Linked DNA regions of Homo sapiens: region 1 is linked to region 2. Evidence: fine-mapped expression QTL. A gene starts in region 2. The other region holds a variant in brackets. All regions are shown on one strand. Distances are from middle to middle.

Region 1 (5,378 bases), 55 kb after region 2:
TGCTGGCCGGGCGTGGTGGCTCATACCTGTAATCCCAGCGCTTTCGGAAGCCAAGGCAGGAGGAGTGCCTCAGCTCAGGGGTTTGAGACCATCCTGGGCAACATGGTGAAGCCCCATTTCCACAGAAAATTAAAAATAAAAATAAATTTAAAAAATAGGCATGCATGGTAGCATATACCTGTAATCCCAGGTAATTGGAGGCAAGACATCATCTCAAAAAAAAAAAAAAAAACCTTCTCATAAAGCAAAACGACAGGGTATGGGCTGACTTCCTCTCCTTCATAAAAGCAACTAGAAAAGTGTCTGAATCAACTTTTTCAGAACTTTGGAAGTTAACCAAAGGCTTATAACAAGTGGGAAATTTTTATTCAAGAGACTATCAAGTTTTCTAGCACATTAATTTGCCCTATTATTCCCATCTCCAGCTCCACAGCCAGCTTAGAAGCTGACAGCCCTCAATCACAATGAAAACCAGAAGCCTGAGAGGTGAATCAAAACAGGGTTAAAACATCTTCAAAGCCTCCTTCTCAGTGAATTGTCATTATTTCATCTGTATAGGGAGTCTGTGTGAGAACACAATGACAAGGTTGGATTTATTTGACCTGAAAACTGACCCAAACAAAAACCTTTTCTGCATGAGGTGTTTACAAAAAACATTTGAAAGTAACTGTTTTAAACTTATTGCCTATCTGAGGTGGAAGACTACTACAGTTGGAGCAAACTACATACAGGCTAACTAAAAATCTGTAAAGAAGGCCGGGCACGGTGGCTCACGCCTGTAATCTCAGTACTTTGGGAGGCGGGCGAATCACCTGAGGTCGGGAGTTTGAGACCAGCCTGCCCAACATGAGAAACCCTGTCTCTACTAAAGAAAATACAAAATTAGCTGGGCGTAATGGTGCATGCCTGTAATCCTAGCTACTCGGGAGGCTGAGGCATTAGAATCACTTGAACCCAGGAGGTGGAGGTTGCAGTGAGCCGAGATTGTGCCACTGCACTCCAGGCTGGGCAACAAGAGCGAAACTCCATCTCAAGAAAAAAAAAAAAATCTGTAAAGAAAAACTTTGAGCCGGGTGCAGTGGCTCAAGCCTGTAATCTCAGCACTTTGGGAGGCCAAGGCAGGCAGATCACGAGGTCAAGAGATCGAGACCATCCTGGCCAACATGGTGAAACCCTGTCTCTACTAAAAATACAAAAATTAGCCAGGCGTGGTGGCATGCTCCTGTAATCCCAGCTACTCAGCTGAGGCAGGAGAATCGCTTGAACCCCGGAGGTGGAGGTTGTAGTGAGCCGAGATCGTGCCACTGCACTCCATCCTGGGCGACAGAGCGAGACTCCGTCTCGATTTTAAAAAAAAGAGAGAAAAAAAAAAAACTTTGGAAGTAAAGACTAAGGTGGCTGTGAATTGCCTGGCTTAGTGCTGAATTGATTCCCAAGATTAGGTTTAAGAAAATCTCGTCAATCTTAGCTGACAACAAGGCTAACCAAGCAGGAACTTCAGTAGCCAACTATTATAAAGAACAGAATTAGTTCAGGAAAGTCACTAAACAAAAAAAGGGCAATAACGAACAATGTGCTCTGCTGAAGAAGGAAGATCTGATTCCAGGAAATGCCATATTATTTAAAGTTGTCTGTTTTCAACAAAAAAATTACAAGACTTGTAAAGAAACAAAAGGGTGTCCCATGCAAAGGGCTGGAAAGCTATGTAGAAATGATCCTTGAGGAAACACTGCTGTTGGACTTACTAGACAAGGAATTCAAATCAGTTACCAAACACATTTATTTTCATTTTATTTTGGTTTTTGAGACAGAGTCTTACTCTGCTGCCCAGGTTGGAGTGCAGTGGCACAAACTCGGCTCAGTGTACCTTCCATCTCCTGGGTTCAAGCAATTCTCTTGCCTCAGCCTCCCAAGTAGCTGGGACTATAGTCGCCCTTCACTATGCCTGGCTAATTTTTGCATTTTTAGTGGATACGGAGTTTTGCCATGTTGGCCAGCTGGTCTCAAACTCCTGATCTCAAGTGATCCACCCACCTTGGCCTCCCAAAGTGCTGCTGGGATTATAGGCTGAAGCCATGACACCCAGCCACTACAGAACACGTTTAAAAGAAAATATATCAAAAGAACTGAAGGAAAACATAGGAATACTATCTCAAAAAGCATGTCCATAGAAATTAGCAAAAAAAAAAACCAAAAAACAGAAATTCGTTTTTTCCCATCAGATACTACACTCTACAACATACCAAACAGAAAAAGTACAGTAACTGTAATAAAGTTTCACTAACCA[CAT/C]GTCCCACCACACATTCAAGCAGACAAAATAGTTCATTTGAAGATAGATCAATTAAAATTATCCAGCCTGAGAAAATGAAAAAAAAGGGGGTGGGGGGATGGGGGCTGAGAACTCAAGGACATGTGGAGCACTACTGAGTGTGCCACCACAAACATAATGGGAGTACAAGGAGAGAAGAAAAAGGTACGGAAAGATTTGTAGAAATAATGACTGAAAACCCGATAAATTTTATTAAAAACATTAATCTAGACACCCAAGAAATTCAATAAATTCTAAGTAGAATAAACTCAAAGAGATTCATACCTAGAATAACATAATCAAGCTGATGAAAGAAAAAAGACAAGGAGAGTATCTTACCAGCAGCAAGATAGAAGCAACTCATCACATACAATACTCAATAAATTAACAGCTGATGTCTCATCAGAAACCATGGAGGACAGAAAGCAGTGGGGGAGCATATTCAAAATGTTCAAAGAAAAGGAATGCCAACCAGGAATCCTTCATCTGGCAAAGCTATCCCCAAAGATACAGGAGGAATTAGGATATTCCCTAGATAACAAAAAGAGGTAATTCATTGCTAGCAGTCCTGCTGAAACAAGAAAAATTCAAGAATCCTGGCTGAAATGAAAAAACACTGAACACTGACCTGAATCCGTATGAAAAACTACTGGCAAAGATACACAGGTAAATACAAAGGACAGTATAAATCTCCTAATTAAAGAACAACTGGGCTGGGTGCAGTGGCTCATTTCTGTAATCCCAACACTTTGGGAAGCTAAAACGGGAGATCAGTTTGAGCCCAGAGGTTCGACACCAGACTGGGCAACATACTGAGAACCTCAACTTTACAAAAAATTAAAAAATTTATCAGGTGTGGTGGCACATGTTTGTGGTCCCAGCTACCTGGGAGGACCGCTTTGAGTCTGGAGGGTTGAGGCTGCACTGAGCTGTGATCGTGTCCTGCGTGGGCAACAGAATGAAACCCTGTCTCAAAAAAATAACTGCATGAAGCAAGAATTATAAACCTTTTGGTGATCACATAATGTATAAAGGTATAATTTGCATGACAATAATGGCAAAAATCAAGGGGAAGGGGACAAAGCCATACTAAATGAAATTTTTGGATCCTACCGAAACTAAAAGATTGGAGTAAGTTAAAATGTTAGTTTTAATACCCAAGGCAACCACTAAGAAACAAAACAAAAAATAAAGTCAAAGAAACATAGGAGTTAAGATGGTACACTACAAAATATCTATTTAACAGTAAGACAGGCAGTAATGGAAGAACAGAGGAACAAAAGTGACAAGAGATAGAAAGATTAACAGCAAAAGAGCCCTATATTATCAATAAATACATTAAATGCAAGACAGGCAGAATGTAGTAAACACAAACACAAATTCACAAACATGCTCCAACCATACCTTCTCTAAAAGAGACCTACTTCAAATTAAGACACATATAGCTTGAGAAAAACAAAACAAAACAAAACAAAAAACAAAACAAAAATATACCAAGCAAACCACCATAAGAGAACTATAATGGTTATACTAGTATCAAACAAAACAAATGTTTAAGAAAAAAACTGTTAATAGAGACAAAGACATTTTACAGTAAGGGTCAATCCATCAGAAATATGTAACCATTAAGGCCGGGCACGGTGGCTCATGACCATAATCCCAGCACTTTGAGAGGCCAAGGTGGGTAGATCACCTGAGGTCAGGAGTTCAAGGCCAGCCTGGGGAACATGGTGAAACCCCATCTGTACTAAAAGTACAAAAAAAAATTAGCTGGAAATGGTGGCGCACGCCTGTAGTTCCAGCTACTCCAGAGGCTGAGGCAGGAAAATCAATGAAACGTGGGAGGAGGAGGTTGCAGTGAGACAAGACAGTGCCACCACACTCCAGCCTGGGTGACACAGCGAGACACAAGACTCCATCTCAAAAACAATAATAAAATAAAGAAGTATGTAACAATTATAAAAACACATGTACTTAAAAACAAAGCCCCAAACACCTGACGGAAAAACTGACAAAACTGAAGGGAGAAAAAGACAGTTAAAATAATAGGAGGCCGGGCATAGTGGCTCATGCCTGTGATCCCAGCACTTTGGGAGGCTGAGGCGAGTGGATCACTTGAGGTCAGGAGTTTGAGACCAGCCAGGCCAACATGGTGAAATCCCATCTCTACTAAAAATTTAAAAATCATCTGGGTGTGATGGTGAGCACCTGTAATCCCAGCTACTGAGGCACAAGAATCGCTTAAACCTAGGAGGCGGAGGTTGCTGTGAACCAAGATCACACCACTGCACACCAGCCTGGGGGACAGAGGCAGACTCTGTCTCAGAAAAATAAAAAATTAAAAATAAAAAAAATTGGGCTGGGCGTGGTGGTTCACACCTGTAATCTCAGCACTTTGGGACGCCAAGGCGGGCGGATCACCTGAGGTCAGGAGTTCGAGACCTGCCTGACCAACATGGAAAAACCCCATCTCTACTAAATATACAAAATTAGCTAGGCGTGGTGGCGCATGCCTGTAATCCCAGCTACTTGGAAGGCTGAGGCAGGAGAATCACTTGAACCCAGGAGGCGGAGGGTTGCGGTGAGCCGAGATCATGCCACTGCACTCTAGCCTGGGCAACAAGAGCAAAACTCCATCTCAAAAAAAAAAAAAATTGAATACTTCTGTACTCCACTTTCAATAATAGATAGATCTACAAAGATAGGCCAGGTGCAGTAGCTCATGCCTGTAATCAATCGCAGCACTTCTGGAGGCCAAAGTGGTAGGATGCCTTGAGCCCAGGAGTTCAACACTAGCCTGGGCAAGACAGTGAAATCCTGTCTCTACAAAAAATAAAAAATTAGCTGGGCATGGTGGTGCATACCTGTAATGCCAGCTACTTCAGAGTTTGAGGGGGGAGGTGGAGGCTGCAGTGAGCCATAATCATGCCACTGTACTCCAGCCTGGGTGACATACACACACACACAAAAATTAAGTTAACGCCAGGCGTGGTGGCTCATGCCTGTAATCCCAGCAACTTTGGGAGGCCAAGGCAGGCAGATCACTTGAGGTCAGGAGTTCGAGACCAGC
Region 2 (5,378 bases):
ATGAACAAGGGTCAGGTAGAAGAGAAAGGCTTCCCCTACACCCCAGCCTCCTGCTGTCCCCTGAAGCCCAGGACTGCGTTGTATGCTTTCCATCCACTCACCTTACCCCATAGCATCTTGCGGCCCAGAAACCAGAGCCATTTGTCTCAGACCCTAAATCAATAATCACAAACCCCAAAACGGGAGAGAGCAGTGAAAACATGCAGGGCTGTGGACGGGGGAAGGGTTGTGGCGGGTGTTCTGAGGCTGAGAGGACACCTATATGCGTATTTCCTCTACACACATCACCCCCCTTCTATAATCTTAAGCCATGACTAGCCTGGTGGCGTGTTAGTTTCTGCCCAGTTCTACCCCCTCATGTGCTTCTTCTGAATACTGAATGTGACTGTTTGAAAGCTGGTAGAATTCATCCCTCTTACTGTAGATAACACTGCAAATCTTGGAATTTTGTTTTTTGCTGTTTCCAGATGTATCTATAAATATCTATACATTATATGTGTGTGTGTGTGTGTGTGTGTGTGTGTACATCGGGTCCTCCCATGTGTGGTGTTCTTCTGGAGGTTGTCTCTTTGGTCAAGGTGAACTTTTAATGTTTATTATTTTCTTCTCCGCACAAAGTAAAGAGCCTAATTTTGTGTATTCTGGTGGCTGCTGTCATGAGATGATAAAATGTAAAACAAAACTCTAGTCAACGTAGAAAGAGTTAACTGTGCTGAAAAACTAATAAAGAACCTAAGAAGAATTCCAGTGTGGTGATGCCATGCCCATCATGGGAGGCTTTTGGAGAAACAGAATGTTTGGGCAGGGGCTGCTGGTGCTGCTTGGGTTTTGGGTTGAGGGTGCTAGGAGAGGATGGTCTCCACCCATCTTTCTATTTCCAGTACACGTCACATTATTTTACCGGTGAGATGAGAATGTCACAAACATTAAAAGCCTTATGTGCTCATTTCTGCTTATGTGCTCATTTCTCCCCTGACTCTGTGACAAAATACAGCTCTCCTCAGCCAGGCACGGTGGCTCAAGCCTGTAATCTCAGCACTTTGGGAGGCTGAGGCGGGCAGATCACTTGAGGCCAGCAGTTCGAGACCAGCCTGGGCAACATGGTGAAACCCCGTCTCTACTAAAAATACAAAAATTAGCTGAGCATGGTGGCGCGTGCCTGTAATACCAGCTACTCGGGAGGCTGAGGCAGGAGAATCGCTTGAACCTAGGAGGCAGAGGTGGTAGTGAGTGGAGATCGTGCCACTGCACTCCAGCCTGGATGACAGAGCAAGACTCTGCCTCAAAATAAAACAAAAAAACAAAATACAGCTCTCCAGAAAAAAATGCCTTAAAGACAAAACAAAACACCCCTGCCCTCCAAATCTCTTGCCTGAGTCACTACATTCCTTCAAAGATAAATGACCTACTCTTTGCCTTCTCCTAAACATACGATCATGTCTGACAGGGTTAATGATTATACTCTGCAATCTATAACCAGATATACTTATCCCTAAACTTTGATATGATTTTACACATACTAAATCTTCACCTATGTATAACCTAAACTAAAATACCGTGTTAGAGGAGCCTCACAAGATTACTCCTGGGCTACAGGCCTCAGTCTATAGTCCTCAATAAGGCTTCTAAATAAAACTAATTTTAATTATTTAAAAGCTTAATATTTTTTCTTTAGTCAACATACCAATCCTTACATTAATTCTACAGAGTAGGTATTATCTTAGTTTCGCAGGTGAGGAGACTAAGGTTCAGGAAAAAGGATTTGCCTGAGTAACAGACCAGGCCGCGCGCGGTGGCTCACGCCTGTAATCCTAGCACTCTGGGAGGCCGAGGCGGGGGGATTGCCTGAGCTCAGGAGTTCGAGACCAGCCTGGGCAACGCGGTGAAACCCCGACTCTACTAAAAATAAACACAAAAAATTAGCTGGGCATGGCAGCGTACGCCTGTAGTCCCAGCTACTTGGGAGGCTGAGGCAGGGGAATTGCTTGAACCCGGGAGGTGGAGGTTGCAGTGAGCCGAGATCGCACCACTGCACTCCAGCCTGGGCGAGACTCCCGTCTCCCCAACGCGCCAAAAAAAAAAAAAAAAAAAAGGAAAAAAAAAAAAAACTGAGTGTTGAGCTGCGGCGTTGCTTGGCTTCAAAACCCATTCCTGTAACCTCTATATTCACAGCCTCATTTTCTTACATTTAACAGCATGCTACTTCCCCAGGTTTAACCACCATTTGTTTTATTCATTTATTTACCCAATAGGTAGATATTGAGTCCCTACTATGTCAGCTAATAAAACCCACCACGTGCTATGCAGCAGATTAAAAACGAGGATGTACTGGCAAATAAGGGCAGAGAGGATCTATTCTAGATCCAGGAGCCCTCTAGGCCACGCCACTCTGAAACACACACGAAAACTGCTCTGAACGAATACCACCAGTAAAAGGGTTCCATGGCCATCGGCAACAAGGGGTCGAGATCAGGAGGTCGCTCGCCGCCCAGTTGCGTCGCTCACCACCGGCCGGCCACCAGACCCTCGGCTTCCGATCCAGAAACCGTATTTTGTTCTTGCACCCAGACCGCAAGAAGCCTCAGCCCTCGGGGACAGACCGAAGGCCAGGGCTGTACCTGGCTCAGAACCAGGCGCCAAGCGGCACGGGACTCTCCTTCTGCACTCGCAGCGCGTGAGTGCAATTGGAGATCCTGGACTCAAGATGTTTTCATGAGGAACGATTCCAGCCCGCGGTAACTCCGGCCAGTCTGCAGCGTGGACGACAAAACAGGCACCACGTGGTTCCGGCGCCGGGGCGGGGCCAGAGACGCCGGAAGTGACCGCGCGGTGCGCCGGCCCGCGAGGAAACGCGCTCTTAGACCATGGCGACCCAGGCGAAGCGTCCACGGGTGAGTGGCGGGCGCGGGGTCCAGCCTTTTCCTCCGCGCCTCACCCCTTCTCCGTTCGCAGAACCGTCCGCCTGCGCCCCCTCCGCTCCCTCCCGCGGGTCCCGCGCCCCTCTCCGCTCGTCCCCTCCTCCACCCAAAGCCCGTTCTGCGCTCGCGCCGCGGTCTCCTGCAGTTCCCAGCGGCCTCTCTGGGGGTCGGACCTGGTCACTGCGCGCACTTATCTCAGGTGGCGGGGCCCGTGGACGGCGGCGACCTGGATCCTGTGGCCTGCTTCCTGAGCTGGTGCCGGCGGGTGGGGCTGGAGCTGAGTCCCAAGGTGAGCGAGCGAGCCGGCGGGCGGAGGACCCGCGGCGGGGCGCGGGCTGCCCTGACCAGCCCTCCTGCTCAGGTGGCGGTCAGCCGGCAGGGCACGGTGGCCGGCTACGGCATGGTGGCCCGGGAGAGCGTGCAGGCCGGAGAGCTGTTGTTCGTGGTGCCGCGGGCCGCGCTCCTGTCGCAGCACACCTGCTCCATCGGCGGCCTGCTGGAGCGAGGTGGGCACGGCGGCGGGCTAGGGCCCTGGGGCGGGGCGGGGCGGGGCGGGGCGGGCCCGGCCCGCGAGGCCGCGCCGGGGCGCTCACACCTGTGTCTTCCTCAGAGCGAGTTGCGCTGCAGAGCCAGTCGGGCTGGGTGCCACTGCTGCTGGCGCTGCTCCACGAGCTGCAGGCCCCGGCCTCACGCTGGAGGCCCTACTTTGCGCTCTGGCCCGAGCTGGGCCGCTTGGAGCACCCGATGTTCTGGTGAGAGCCTTGGGAGGGGTTGGGGAGCGCCTGCACCGTAGCCTGCTGCAAGAAGTTTCCCCGCCCCTGCACCAGTCCTACCCAGTAAAGTGTGTGAAGGAATGAAGGGAACCTGGGTGTGGGTGTCCCTGCAGGCCAGAGGAGGAGCGCCGGTGCCTGCTCCAGGGCACAGGCGTACCTGAGGCCGTGGAGAAGGATTTGGCCAACATCCGCAGCGAGTACCAGTCCATCGTGCTGCCCTTCATGGAAGCCCACCCCGATCTCTTCAGCCTCAGGGTTCGCTCCCTAGAACTCTACCACCAGCTGGTGGCCCTTGTGATGGCCTATAGGTCAGTGGGTGGGGCCTCTGAGGACGGAACCCTTTTCTTTACAACTCTATAGAGGGACAAAAGTGGAAAAACAGTGAAATCCACCCCCAGTCCCTCACCCAAGACAGGGCCTTAGCCAGGTTCTGTCAATGGCAGCTTTCAGGAACCACTGGAGGAAGAAGAGGATGAAAAGGAGCCCAACTCCCCCGTGATGGTGCCTGCTGCAGACATACTAAACCACTTAGCCAATCACAACGCCAATCTAGAATACTCTGCGGTGAGTGGAGTTTCTCTTGGTGCACTGATTGAGCATGATTCAAGCCATTGTGTCTTAGGCTCCATTCTCTTACTAGTGCTACAAAATGAGTAGGTGAAATCAGCTCCTCCTGTATGTCCTTTTAGTATGCATATTACTGTAGAATCATTTGAATGCGAAACATTTTAAAGTCCTCAAAGTAAGTTGTGGTTAATCCTCTGATAAACTATACTACCATCATTTATTTAGTGCTAGACATTGAGTGGTCTGCATAGCCATGTTTCATTCCTTTCTGGCTGATCACATCAGTGAGCCCAGACTGTGTGTGGCTCTGTGGATAGCAGCCTGGAACAGTGATAGTCTCCGTGTTTTGGAGGGATGAGGACATTCACAGGCCAAAGGTCTAAGACGATCCTAGAACTGATATAAAGCTGTGTTTATACCAGCTCTATTCTATATAAAAAGTAGCCTGAAAAGATGGCACATTTATAGGATCAGAAATTAGTAAGTATGGTTATTTCTTAATCCTTGCCTCCATTTTCCTTTCCCACTTTGATCTGCGAAAGTTCCATTTTTTCCCCCCCGAGGCGGAGTCTCACTGTGTCGCCCAGGCTGGAGTGCAGTGGCGTGATCTCGGCTCACTGCAACTGCCGCCTCCTGGGTTCAAGCAATTCTCCCTGCCTCAGCCTCCCGAGTAGTTGGAATTACAGGCTCCTGCCACCATGCCCGGCTAATTTTTGTATTTTTTAGTAGGGATGGGGTTTCTCCGTGTTGGCCAGGCTGGTCTTGAACTCCTGATCTCAGGTGATCTGCCCACTTTGACCTCCCTAAGTGCTGGGATTACAGGTGTGAGCCACTGCGCCTGGCCGAAAATTTCGTTTTTAAAGCTAGCAACTTTTTAAGTGCTGAAGAGGACTGTGCAGAAATCCACCCAGTTAAACATGAAGCTGGCCTTTTAAAGTTAGCCCAACCCTTTTTTGTTTCACAGTTTAGGGTCTAACAGGAACTAAAGGTAGAACTTTGGTAGTTAACAGCATCAGTCATGGCTGAACTACACCTGCTGAAGGCTCTTCTTAAGTGGAAATAATCTTCATGGGGCTGGCCCGTGAAAGGCATGGCCCCAGCTTCTCCCTTTCACCTCAGA

What was found. PIP is the estimated chance that this variant, and not a neighbour inherited with it, causes the effect. A credible set is the group of variants that fine-mapping cannot tell apart.
Region 1: its variant is the best candidate, but not a certain one, in a credible set for the expression of SETD6 in whole blood (INTERVAL, PIP 0.90).

What each region holds. Positions count from the first base shown.
Region 1 is chr16:58,567,337-58,572,714 of GRCh38, forward strand. The region is part of intron 16 of CNOT1 (CCR4-NOT transcription complex subunit 1); the gene reads right to left. Among named protein-coding and RNA genes, the nearest start is that of SNORA50A, 10 kb to the left of the region's middle. The variant CAT/C (reference allele first, on the strand shown) is at 2,288.
Region 2 is chr16:58,512,674-58,518,051 of GRCh38, forward strand. SETD6 (SET domain containing 6, protein lysine methyltransferase) reads left to right here and starts at 2,844. Exons shown (of 8, transcript NM_001160305.4): 1 at 2,844-2,891; 2 at 3,118-3,424; 3 at 3,529-3,670; 4 at 3,805-3,999; 5 at 4,135-4,255; 6 at 5,378. The coding sequence starts at 2,865. It overlaps NDRG4 (NDRG family member 4), which reads left to right. Exons shown (of 15, transcript NM_001242835.2): 15 at 1-946. RefSeq lists enhancers at 2,519-2,688, 3,729-3,898, 4,548-4,717 and a silencer at 2,809-3,468.